2 separate regions of the Homo sapiens genome follow, and region 1 is linked to region 2. Evidence: fine-mapped expression QTL. Tissue or cell type: cerebellar hemisphere. Region 2 holds a variant in brackets; the other region holds the start of a gene. All regions are shown on one strand. Distances are from middle to middle.

What was found. PIP is the estimated chance that this variant, and not a neighbour inherited with it, causes the effect.
Region 1: it holds the start of STAC, and the variant in region 2 is fine-mapped to the expression of STAC in cerebellar hemisphere (GTEx, PIP 0.98).

What each region holds. Positions count from the first base shown.
Region 1 is chr3:36,377,777-36,383,589 of GRCh38, forward strand. STAC (SH3 and cysteine rich domain) reads left to right here and starts at 2,728. Exons shown (of 11, transcript NM_003149.3): 1 at 2,728-2,978. The coding sequence starts at 2,868. The region is part of intron 2 of LOC124906227 (a long non-coding RNA gene); the gene reads right to left.
Region 2 is chr3:36,190,425-36,196,237 of GRCh38, forward strand. No RefSeq gene overlaps it. Among named protein-coding and RNA genes, the nearest start is that of STAC, 190 kb to the right of the region's middle. The variant A/G (reference allele first, on the strand shown) is at 2,623.

The DNA.
Region 1 (5,813 bases), 190 kb after region 2:
GCTAAAATGTCATAAAGCTTCTAAGGCAGAATTTCCAGTCTTCTGTGAGGTCTCACCTAAGCATTCCTGGGTGTCAGATGGGGTATCTCACACATAGCCATGAAAATGTACACTTCTGCTCAGGGATATCAATGCTTCATGAGGGGTACTCTGGGGATCACTTTGCTGGTCTACCATCTACTGACTCAAAGCACTGACAAATCCCATTGTTTTACAGAAGCATTCAGAGTCTTCTTCCATTCAGTTTGTGGAGGACACATGCAATAATTAATGCCTAGACCATTTCTAGAGCTCAGGGGCTACAAGGGTAGCCTCTTTTCACCACCTTGTTAACAAGCATTATACCAGGAGCTAGAGAAACAAGATGAACATGGCATTGCCCCTGCCCTAGGGGAGATCATAGCCCAACAGAAGAGCAGGCAACCTTGTCATTGATTACTTAGGAAAGGAAGTCATGGGAACATGGCATTGATTTGGGAATCTAAATCAGATAAATGGGTCAAGGAAGGAGATGTCAAGAGTAGTAAATACTTGGATATGTGATTTGAAGAATAAGATAAGTTAGCTAGATAACAAAAGATCGGATAGAAAATAATGTGAAACTAACACATAAACAAAGGCGTGATTTAGTTTGGGACACCATGGCTAATTCCTATGGTAGGTATTATTTATCAGACTAAGGATTTCTGCTGCTGGATCAGGGTGGGGTGGAAAGGAAGGAGGTACTAGCTTCTCTAAATTTCCTTCAAGGGACAACATTTAAACATATACTATTGGCTAATACTGTTGCTAACTTGAGCTAAGCACTTACTAAAAGTAAGGATGACATCTTCAATTCTTAAAAAAAGAAAATCCAAAAGAAAAAAAGGATGAAAAATTTATTGTTCTAAGCCATGACATGCTTGCTCACCAAGACTGGAATTGCCAGTAGACCCTGGGAGTTTTGTTTCCTAAGAAAACCCTCGTCTGGCCCCATGCTAGCTCAGGCTTCATTTGTACACACTCATCAAAGTCTTGTACTTTCCCTTATCATAGTTTTTTTTTAAATGTGTGTGTGATTTAATTAATTGCTGTCTCTCCCACTAGACTTAAATTCCAGGAAAACAGACTTAATCTGTGTTTTCTCTCTGCTGTATCATTAGTTTCTGGCACAATTCTGATACAGAATAGATGCTTGATAAAAATGTGTTGATATGGCTGCTCCTGTCATTGTGTTTGTGACTTTGGCTACTAGAATTCTGTCTCTATCGAACACTCAGGCATTGTGTTGTGAGAAGGAAAAAGCTGAAGCCATTTGGGCTAGCCAATCTGGCCCCGTACTGAGGGTCACCAGAAAATTTAGAGCATTTTGAAAGCTAAATGCTGAGTAAGAGGCTGACACATTGAACAGTAGCTTTCAATTGACATCTGGGATGGAAAGAGTAAGAGCAAGTTTATTCTAAAAGACATGAGCTAGGGCATGGATGCAGGACCAAACACATAATTTGCAGGGTCAAGTACAAAATGAAAATGTGATCTCTTGTTAAATATTTTTACCGAATTTCAAGATGGCAGCATCAGCGCGGGGCCCTGTGTGACTGCACAGGTTGCACATCCATGAAGCTGTTCTTGCAAACATCTACAGCTAATTTTAAAAATCTGAACAGAAGTTTGCAATTTTGTTTTAAAAAATTGAGGGTATTTTGTATTAATGGGGGAAAAGAGGCTTTTAAATATCTAGGTGTGTTTCTTTTCCCTGCACACTGAGGTTGTCTTCAAAAGAAACTGGACCCTCTGTATCTTTATTCAGTGGGGCTATTCCTATGTTTCCAAAAGATTTAGTAAGGCAGGCTGGTTTGCCCCTCTGTGAACAGTCCTCAACTCTTGCTATACTGCAACATCCAATTGCTCTTCAGCCAAGACCTGGCCTAGATTTGAGGCTCCACAGTCGGAAATGCATGGATTTTGAAGCCCAAATGTGTTCGAATTCCAGTTTCACCAATTATAGTTTAGTGACTTAAAGCAAATTACTCAGTCTTCCTACAGCCTCAACTTCCTCATCTATAAAATGGAAGTGATAATCCCTAGACGCATAGAGTAGCTGGGAGGATTAAATAAGGTAAAAAGAAAGGGTTTAGTACAATAAGTGCACAACAAACGAGGAACAGGTGTCCATATACACACTGCATTATCTCTCTGCTTTAGATCAAAGCTGAATGGAGAAAACGCAGTGCCCGTGAGTCAGGGGACCCCCACTCCGACCCCTGCTCTCTGTCACTGAACCCTATAAATAGCTTAGCTAAGTCACTGTCTCAGTCACTATTCGTTGGGGTGAGGAATGAGGGAGTTGTTGCAAGTGGCTCTTTCTGGCTATATCATTCACAGATTTTCTATTCTTTGGGGTTTGGGTCTGAATTTTCAGCATCCTCTCTGAAGAATCACCCCCACCCAGTGCCGGCGTGCGCCCAGCCTTCCCCCAGCCCTTTCCAGGGCGCTGCCCCCTGCCTGCCCTCACTACTCCAGGCGCTGGCCGCGCAGCCCCGCCCTGGAGCTGCCTCCCCGCCTCCTTCCTCCTCCTGCGGGCGAGCAGAAGCCCGCTCGCCCGCTGCCGAGTGGCAGTCACGACTGTGAGGTCGCCGGCGAGGTGGCCGCGGGCGCGGCGGGGCGGGGCAGGGCGCACTCTCCTCCACGCCCGCGGAAGTGCCGGGGAGGTGGGCAGGGCGGGGAGGGAGAGGGAGCGAGGCTGGAGGAGGGCACGTCGGCGCCTCGGCGAGGATGGGAGTCCCCAGGACCCGGAGCTGAGCAGCCTGGCGCGCGGCGGGCAGGGCGCGCAGGACAGAAGCCTCGCTGTTCCTCCGGGAGCCCAACACCGTTCCCGCGCGGCCACGATGATCCCTCCGAGCAGCCCCCGCGAGGACGGCGTGGACGGGCTGCCCAAGGAGGCGGTGGGCGCCGAGCAACCGCCCTCTCCTGCATCCACCAGCAGCCAGGAATCCAAGGTACCGAGCACGCTTGCCCCCAAGAGAACACAAACTCACTCTCCTCTCCTGTCGGTCCAGCTTTGTCTCTCCTCCTATCTAGCACGGGCGTGGGGGTCTGAGACTTGCTAGTTAGCCCAGGGCTGTAGGACTTGAACGTCCGGTAGGACCCGCTGCTCACGATGCTGGACCACGTCCCTGTGGACCCAGCCTTCCCGCCCACACATTCACACACGCAATTCATGGTGGCTCCGGGTTCAGAGATCGATTTCTTGCGGGGTGGTAGCTTGGTTTTTTTTGTGCTTTGAACCTGCTTGTGTCCAAAGCACGTGTAGGTAGGTATTAGGTGGCTTCTGAAGGCTGAGGGATGGAGACAGCCGAGGGATACTCTTCCAGAAAAGCTTGAGTACTGGGCCAGAAAAGCATGTATGTATCCCAAGGGTCTCAGAGACCTTTTGCTTAACAGGGATCACCCCTACCTTCAGATACTACTCACTAAAAAAGAAAAAGAAAAAGAAAGGGTTTGCCTGCGTTTGTCTGAAAGTTGATGTTCCTCTTGTGAAAGTTAATACTCTAAGAACCTATACTTGCTTTTATGAAAGTTACACTAACACGTATACAAAAAACCAAGCCCGCAGCAGTTCTCCTGTCACTGTTACACTTCCTCTGAAACTCCCGTGGGTGCCAGGCACATGTTTGAAAATCTTGGAAGAGGATAGAGTAAAATGTGGCTGCTAGCAGTGCAATGCCAAATGGCAACTCAGCTGGTGGTGGAAATCCTAAGATGGAGTTTGTAGTTATGTGGATTCTTTTAAGTGTAGAGCTCCTGGCTCTTTATTCTGATTTCATTGTGCGATCCCCAGGCATTTGGGGAATGTGAGGCAGTCCGTGTATACCAGCAAAGGAAAGGGGTTGCCAGTTTATAGGATAGGGACAGGCCAGATGGGGCAAGGAAGACTGCGATCCTGTCTCTCTTCACATGCATCCCTGGAAGCCATTGATATGATCAGGAGGATGAAAATCACAGCCTGAGTGGCTCTGGGGATTTGGTGTGATACTGGGCACTGTACATTTCCCAGCCCCCTGAAGTTAACCATCAATGATGGTAATCTAAGCCCGAAAGCTTTACATCTTATTTATTTTTATTTTTTTCCTGTTACTTACTGGCTGCCAGACCTGGGGTATGTGTGTCAACTTTTCTAAAACTCGGTTGGAAATGAGGGAAAAAGCCCCAACTTCCAGAGACATTGTGAGGAGTACATGAGAGGCCCTAATGTCCACCTGGTATACTGTAAGGACTCAATCATGTTTATCCTTTTCCTTCCTGAGATAAAGAGATGGAATCTATCTCATCTCAAATGATCCACTCCAAAGCAATCTGATAACCCATACACATGCACTACCTCTCCTCAGTCAAAAAGTTTCTGGGTATCATTGCCTCCCATTGAACATCAGTCCCCAGAGTGATATAGGTTAGTGGCCATTTTAGAGGAAAGCTAGAATTCTATAAATGAATGTAGCTGAACTCAAGAGTAAAACTAGTATTGAACTTTTTGAATTGGCCTGTTGCTCTGCAGTAGGCGTGTTCTGGAAAGGGCTTAGCATTTGGGCAAACAGTGGCATGGTTCAAATGCATTATATGGATTTGCTATTTATAGATGTCCTAATGGAAATTATTTGGCAGAGCAAAAGCCACATATGTAATGCCCATAATTATCCACCAATTTATCTGGCTTATGGTTTTGTACAAATTAGTTTTTCTCAAAGTGGTCTATACACCGGATGTGTGTTTCTACATTCCTAAATTTGATGTCATGGCCTCAGTAAGCTTAATTAGTGGAGATGAACTATGGCAGCCCATGAACCCTAGGAAATTGAATGCAATATTGTATGCCTACATGTGAATTTTTCTTGGCATAGCATTCATGATATTCTCAAAGTGATCCATGCCCCTTAAAAAAGGCTAAACTGCTAGTAGGGAGGAACGTGTGGTAAGGTAAGGGAGTAGGATGGCATGACACTGGAGGAGAGGAAGGCTCAATTCATTCTATTCTAGGAAGGCCACATGTTAAAGCTTACTGGCGTTTACAAGGATCTTTGACCCTGAGCATGAGAGCTTGGTGAGGAAAATGTGAACAAGACAGTAATATGCATTCCATCTTACTCTTCCATGAAGTGGTCTTGTTTGTAAAATATCTTGTGGGACAAACATGGTTCAGGCCCCCTTGGCATTAAACTCTCTCAAGGAAGACTTAAAGTTACTTTTTTTAAAGAGTTAGGTTTTTTTGTCTTATTATAAGAGTAACAAATACTCTTTGTAGATATTTGAACAGTCCAGACATAAATGATGAAAAGAAAAATAAATTAGCTCTTGGTTTACCATCCAGAAGCATCTACTAATAAAACTTTGATCTATATCTCATGTCTTTTTAAATCTGTTTATATATTTACATAGTTGAGCGAGAACAATAGTGAGCATCTACTGAATGTTTACTGTAAGTCAGATACAACCTTAATCTTCACAATAGAAGATTCTGTTAATATTTCTATTTTATGGATGGGGAAGTGGAAGCCAAGAAAGGTTAGATCATTTTCACTGTGAAAATTTATTATGGAAAATTTTAATATACACAAAAGTAGAGAAAACAGTATAAAGAACTGTCATGGACCTAATCATGTGGCTTCACAATTAATTCATGGACAGTATTGTTTTATGTATTACCACCACCACCACCACCCTACACATACTGGATCATTTTAAAGCAAATTCCAGACATGAAATAACTTCACCCGTAAATATGCTATCAGGTTACATCTCTCAAGGATAAGGGTTATTTTCATTTTATTTTCATAAAC
Region 2 (5,813 bases):
TAAGTGGAGCATTTAGACCATTTACATTCAATGTTAATATTGAGATGTGAGGTACTATTCCACTCATCATGCTATTTGTTGCCTGTATGCCTTTTTTTGTTTTTGTTTTTTAAATGGTATTTTTGTTTTATAGGTCCTGTGAGATTTATGCTTTAAAGAGGTTCTGTTTTAATGTGTTTCCAGGATTTGTTTCAAGATTTAGAGCTCCTTTTTATAGTTCTTGTAGTGGTGGTTCAGTAGTGGCGAATTCTCTTAGTATTTGTTAGTCTGAAAAAGACTATTTTTTCTTCATATATAAAGCTTAGTTTCACTAGATACAAAATTCTTGGCTGATAATTGTTTTGTTTGAGGAGGCTGAAAATAGGGCCCCAATCCCTTCTAGCTTGTAGGGTTTCTGCTGAGAAATCTGCTGTTAATCTGATAGGTTTTCCTTTATAGGTTATCTGGTGCTTTTGTCTCACAGCTCTTAAGATTCTTTCCTTTGTTTTGACCTTAGATAACCTGATGACGATGTGCCTAGGTGATGATCTTTTGCACTGAATTTCTCGGGTGTTCATTGTGCTTCTTGTGTTTGGATGTTTAGGTCTCTAGCAAGGTCAGGGAAGTTTTCCTCAATTATTCCCCCAAATATGTTTTCCAAACTTTTGATTTCTCTTCTTCCTCAGGAACACAGATTATTTTTAGGTTTGATCATTTAACACAATCCCAGACTTCTTGTAGGCTTTGTTGATATTTTCTTATTCTTTTTTGTCTTTGTTGGATTGGGTTCAAAGACTTTGTCTTTGAGCTCTGAATTTCTTTTTTCTATTTGTTCAATTCTATTGCTGAGACTTTCCAGGACATTTTGCATTTCTATAAATGTGTCCATTGATTCCTGAAGTTTTGGTTGTTTTTTTCATTTATGCTATCTATTTCCTTGAATATTTCTCCCTTCATTTCTTGTATTCTTTTTTGGATTTTCTTACATTGGGCTTCGCCTTTCTCTGATGCCTCACTGATTAGCTTAATAACTAACCTCTTGAATTCTTTTTCAGGTAAATCAGGGATTTCTCCTGGGTTTGGGTCCATTGCTGGTGAGCTAGTGTGATTTTTTGGGGGTGTTAACAAACCTTATTTTGTCATATTACCAGAGTTGGTTTTCTGATTCCTTCTCATTTGGGTAGTCTCTGTCAGAGGAAAGGTCTAGGGCTGAAGGCTGTTCACATTCTTTTGTCCCACAGGGTGGTCCCTTGATGTAGTACTGTCCCCCTTTTCCTATAGATGTGGCTTCCTGAGAGCCGAGCTGCAGTGATTGTTGTATCTCTTCTGGATCTAGCCACCCAGCAGCCTACCAGGCCCCAGGCTGGTACTGGGGGTTGTCTGCGCAGAGTCCTGTGATGTGACCCATCTGTGGGCCTCTCAGCTGTGGATACCAACACAGTATTTGGGGTGTCTCCTGGGTCCTGCAGGAACAATCCACTTCCTTCAGGGGGTCTGTGGGTCCTCTCAGGTTTTCTGATTTATTCCTGCAGACAGTCTGGAGCAAAAGTTCATGATGTGAACCTCCACACGCTGCTACGTCTGTCCACTCAGAGCTGTAATATAGTCCTGTCTCCCATCTGTCCTGATCCACTTGTCTATTAATACTGCTATTTTTAATTTGTGAATTTACTAGAGTCAGCTATTAACACAAACAGAATTCTTTAACTTGACATGAAACTATTTTCTGACAACTTTTGCTGAATAGTATAGGAAGATGTAATTCAACATGATTAAATGCTTACTATATTACTATGCTCAAGTGTTGCCATTTTCTTATTTCTGATTCAGCCATATTATTGTGTTATGACAAGTGAGTGAGGAGGTGACTGTAGGAAGGGGTGGTTAGAAAGTTTATAAACAAAGAGTTTATCAAAGGTTTTGTTATTTTTATTCAATCAATCCCTATGTGAACTTAAATATGGAACACATAAGATACTTTATGTAGCTCAAAGTTTCTAACAGAATAAGAAATTCAGAGTAGATATTAAAGGATTATCAATAAACATATAAGTGGAAGACTATCAGAGTTACATGTGAAAAATTAGATACTAGTTGCCTGATAGTGTCACTGCTTTGACAAAAACAACATTTTGGGGGATTTCTGGACAATAGGTAGAACCACCACAAGTCTGTGCCTTTGTCAAAGAACTGATAAAAGTATTGAAGGGGCAATGAAATCAATGATCTAACATGAACAGAAAATGTGACTTTATAAAATCCAGAATGGCAGCCAGTACATTAAGCATAATGAGGACAATGCAGGATTTGGGGCCAGACAGACCTGGACTTGAAGTTAGTCTCTATCATTTGGTAAGTTTGTGAGATTCTCTTGGCTCATTCTTTAAATGAAGATCATGGAATCTATCCTGTTAGGTTTAGGCTGTTAAAGACGAACAATTTTAAAAGCCTATGATCCAATTTGAACTTGAGAAATGGGAATTACTACATTATTATTGTTTTATATAGAGATAAATATGAATGAAAAATGCTTTTCTGGGTTCTGGGTCACTGTTTTTGAGATTCAGGATTATTTTCCCCTGGCTAAAAAGCACAGCTTCTGCAGCAATCTGACTTGGCAGGCATTACAATGTACAGAAGGAG[A/G]AACAAAACCCCACTCAAAAGGCTTTCTTCAGTCTAAAAATAAATGTTCCCTTACCTGGCCATTGCTTTGTCTCTAGCCTATTTGAGAATCCCTGCCTCTTGCTCTGTGTGGCATGCTGCACCTGCTCTGTGCTCCTGTTCAATCATCAGGGACTAAAAACAGGAAAAGGTCTCCTCTTTAATATGATTTCCAGGTGTGCTCAAAAAACTTGGCTGCATCAGGAGCCAAAATTCTTCCCATTGATCAAGCAAGACAACTCTCATTATCTGCTGTCTAAATTGAAATTATGTCATGGCATAAGTTATATGGAATATTGATGGGGAATAAGAGGATGAAGAGGTGATAACTTAAAAAAGCTTTGACAATACCTATTTTGATTATATCACATGAAAATATGAGCCCCAAAGAAACATGTATTGAACATATATTGAGTTTTGACAATGAACAGGCCTTGAGGCTCCACTAAGTGCAAGACCCTGTGCCAAAGATGTTGATATTAGGCACCCATGGAAAGATGACTAATGATGCAAGATAATGGAATACAGGAAGTGCCTTGTGAGTCTACATTCAAGAAAAACAATGGGAGGAAGTTCTGTCTGAGCTGATTATCATAATTTCACATGCTATATTGTGAAAGTTGTACGTTGCACGTGGTTCCCTAGCCAAGGAGACAAGTGGGTTGATAATTCACCCTGTACTTGCTCACCAATCAGGACACTCTAACTCAGGGCTGAGTTTACCTAGAGGAAGAGAAGCTTTCCTCTAAGTCTCACAAGGAGCCACACTGGCAAATTGGGTATCCATTTCATTGGCTCTCTCATTCATTGACCAATATTTATTGTATTTCTGTATCATCACTAACCTAGATCCCTTCCCTATCTTTGATAAACCAACAGGCCCATGATCAGGAAGTTCTGTAGAAGGGACTGGCCTCCCATCTAAGGAGCTTCTTCATTTAATGTGTCCTAATCATTCTCTCTCTCCTTGAGGGACACACACTTATTTATGTAACATCTCCATCAAATAAATAATTGGAAATAGAGAAAACATTGTGTAACAGCAATTCCCTACTATGTAGCTCTTTATTGTGTACATAGAAGGTTCATAAACTGCCTTTTTGATCCTCACAACAATTAGTGGGAAGGCCAGGATGAGTATCTACATCCCATTTGACAGTGACTGAGGCTCTGAAGATAATTCTAGGTCCCAGATATAGGTAGGCTCAAGGATGTCTATTGCACATACATCTTGGCAATTAAAACAATGGTTTTCCTGTTTTATAACACAATTTTGACACATTTATAAATGGCTGATTCAAAAATGTCTCCCAGATCAGAATAACCTCAACAAATCAGTCAAGGTAAAATGGCCTTTGACATCACTCACATCCCCATACATGAAATTTAGCAAGTAAAATCTTTACACAGATTTTTAATCAGATTAGCAGATGAATTAAAAGATGATGTATAAAACAGATTAAAACATTAGAATTAAAATGTTTATTGTCAATACAAAATTTGATCAGTACTGATCTGTTTTCAGATCCGTCTTATCTGGGGAGAGGTAAGACTGATGTGAAAATTCCAAAATGATTCTTCCAAATTAAATAATTCATCTTTGTCAGCTCTTAATCCAGCTGATGTCAGCAGGTAACAGTCTGCACAATGAACTTTTTTTCCCACAGTGCCATGGCACACCCATGGCGGGATTCATTACTGACACTCTCAGCCTGAACACTAATCCCGTGAAGCTTCTGACCAGCTCTCAGTTCTGTTTCTCCAATACCCTGAGAGATTTCACAGTCTAATTAGTCTTGAACATGAATGTGAATAAAGAATAGCCTTTGGTGGCCTGGCCAGCTCTTACCTCTTCTCCTTGCTCTCCACATTGTCTTACTGTCTGATGTTACCAGATTCGTCTTCTCAAAGCATGATACATGGTTTTCATATTAACTCTCAGGTTCAAAACTTCCATGACCTTATTGCCAATTGCCTATAATTAAAGAGAAAAGTCCTTAGCTTGGAATTTAAGCCCTCCACAGTGTGATTCCAACCTCCATTTCTGTCCATTTTTCTCGCTAGTTCCTTCACAAATACACAACTACTCTGTTATTTATGCACATACCCATGCCCCTGCTAATAGAAGTGTACACATCTTAAATACTCTCTTCTTTCTCACAATTGCATGTACAAAGTCTACTAGTGTTGCACCTAAATGATATCTCCACAAAAACTTTCACTGATTCCTTCTAGCTGGGAATAATCACACGTACCTCTGAATTTTAATGTGTTCTAAGTGTTCCCATCTTAAGTATCTTTTGCTTTTTGCTTTGTATTATATACTTCAGAATAAAACCTTTCTGAGGGTAGGGGGTCTGTCATACTTCATTCCTTTGACGTATTACCTGATATTTATAAATTTTTCACAACAAATTGGTAAATACAGTCATAACTACTCCGCATTTTGCCTTACTCCTCATTGTAACAGAATAATTATCACTCTAGGGTCCCGGGCAAGTAGAATCTATCTAGCACTCCCAGTTATTACTGATTCCACTTCTCAGTGGAAAACCATTTAAGTTAACAATTTATCTGAATGCACACACGGAGGGGCCATCAGCGCTTCCAGCTATGGCTGAAAGATCTAGGGAAAGTTTTTTTCCTTGGCAGCTGTAAGGAAGGGACATTGTTGATTGAGCTAGGAAAGCAAGAGCTTCACTAAGAGAATATTCATATGCTCTGCCATAATGAATTTGTGCAGTTCATTGCATTTTTCAGTCATAAAAATAACATTTTATTTTGTAATTTGCATACTAAATTTGGACTCTATTTGTACACTGTTTACAAGGTAAAAAGCAAGCATACTAACTAACAATTGCTGTGTCCTGGGCAAGTATATCAAAGTGGATCTGGATACAAAAAAACAGGTGGAACATGTAACAGGATGGTATGGGGATGCTCCAGTGGAGACCCAGGTTCCGGCTTCTCATCTCAGCAGGACAGATGTGTGACACTCACTGCCAAAGACCAACCCAAGGTAGAAAAGTTCAGAAATCAAAGCTCCTGGGGCAGCAAGGTAGAGTTTAAAAGAAATAACTGTGAGAATAAATGATTTTGGTTATGAGGGGACCTGGCTGTTGATAGTCTCTCACCAATCTAATATGTGACTTGGTCATCATGAGTCATATTAT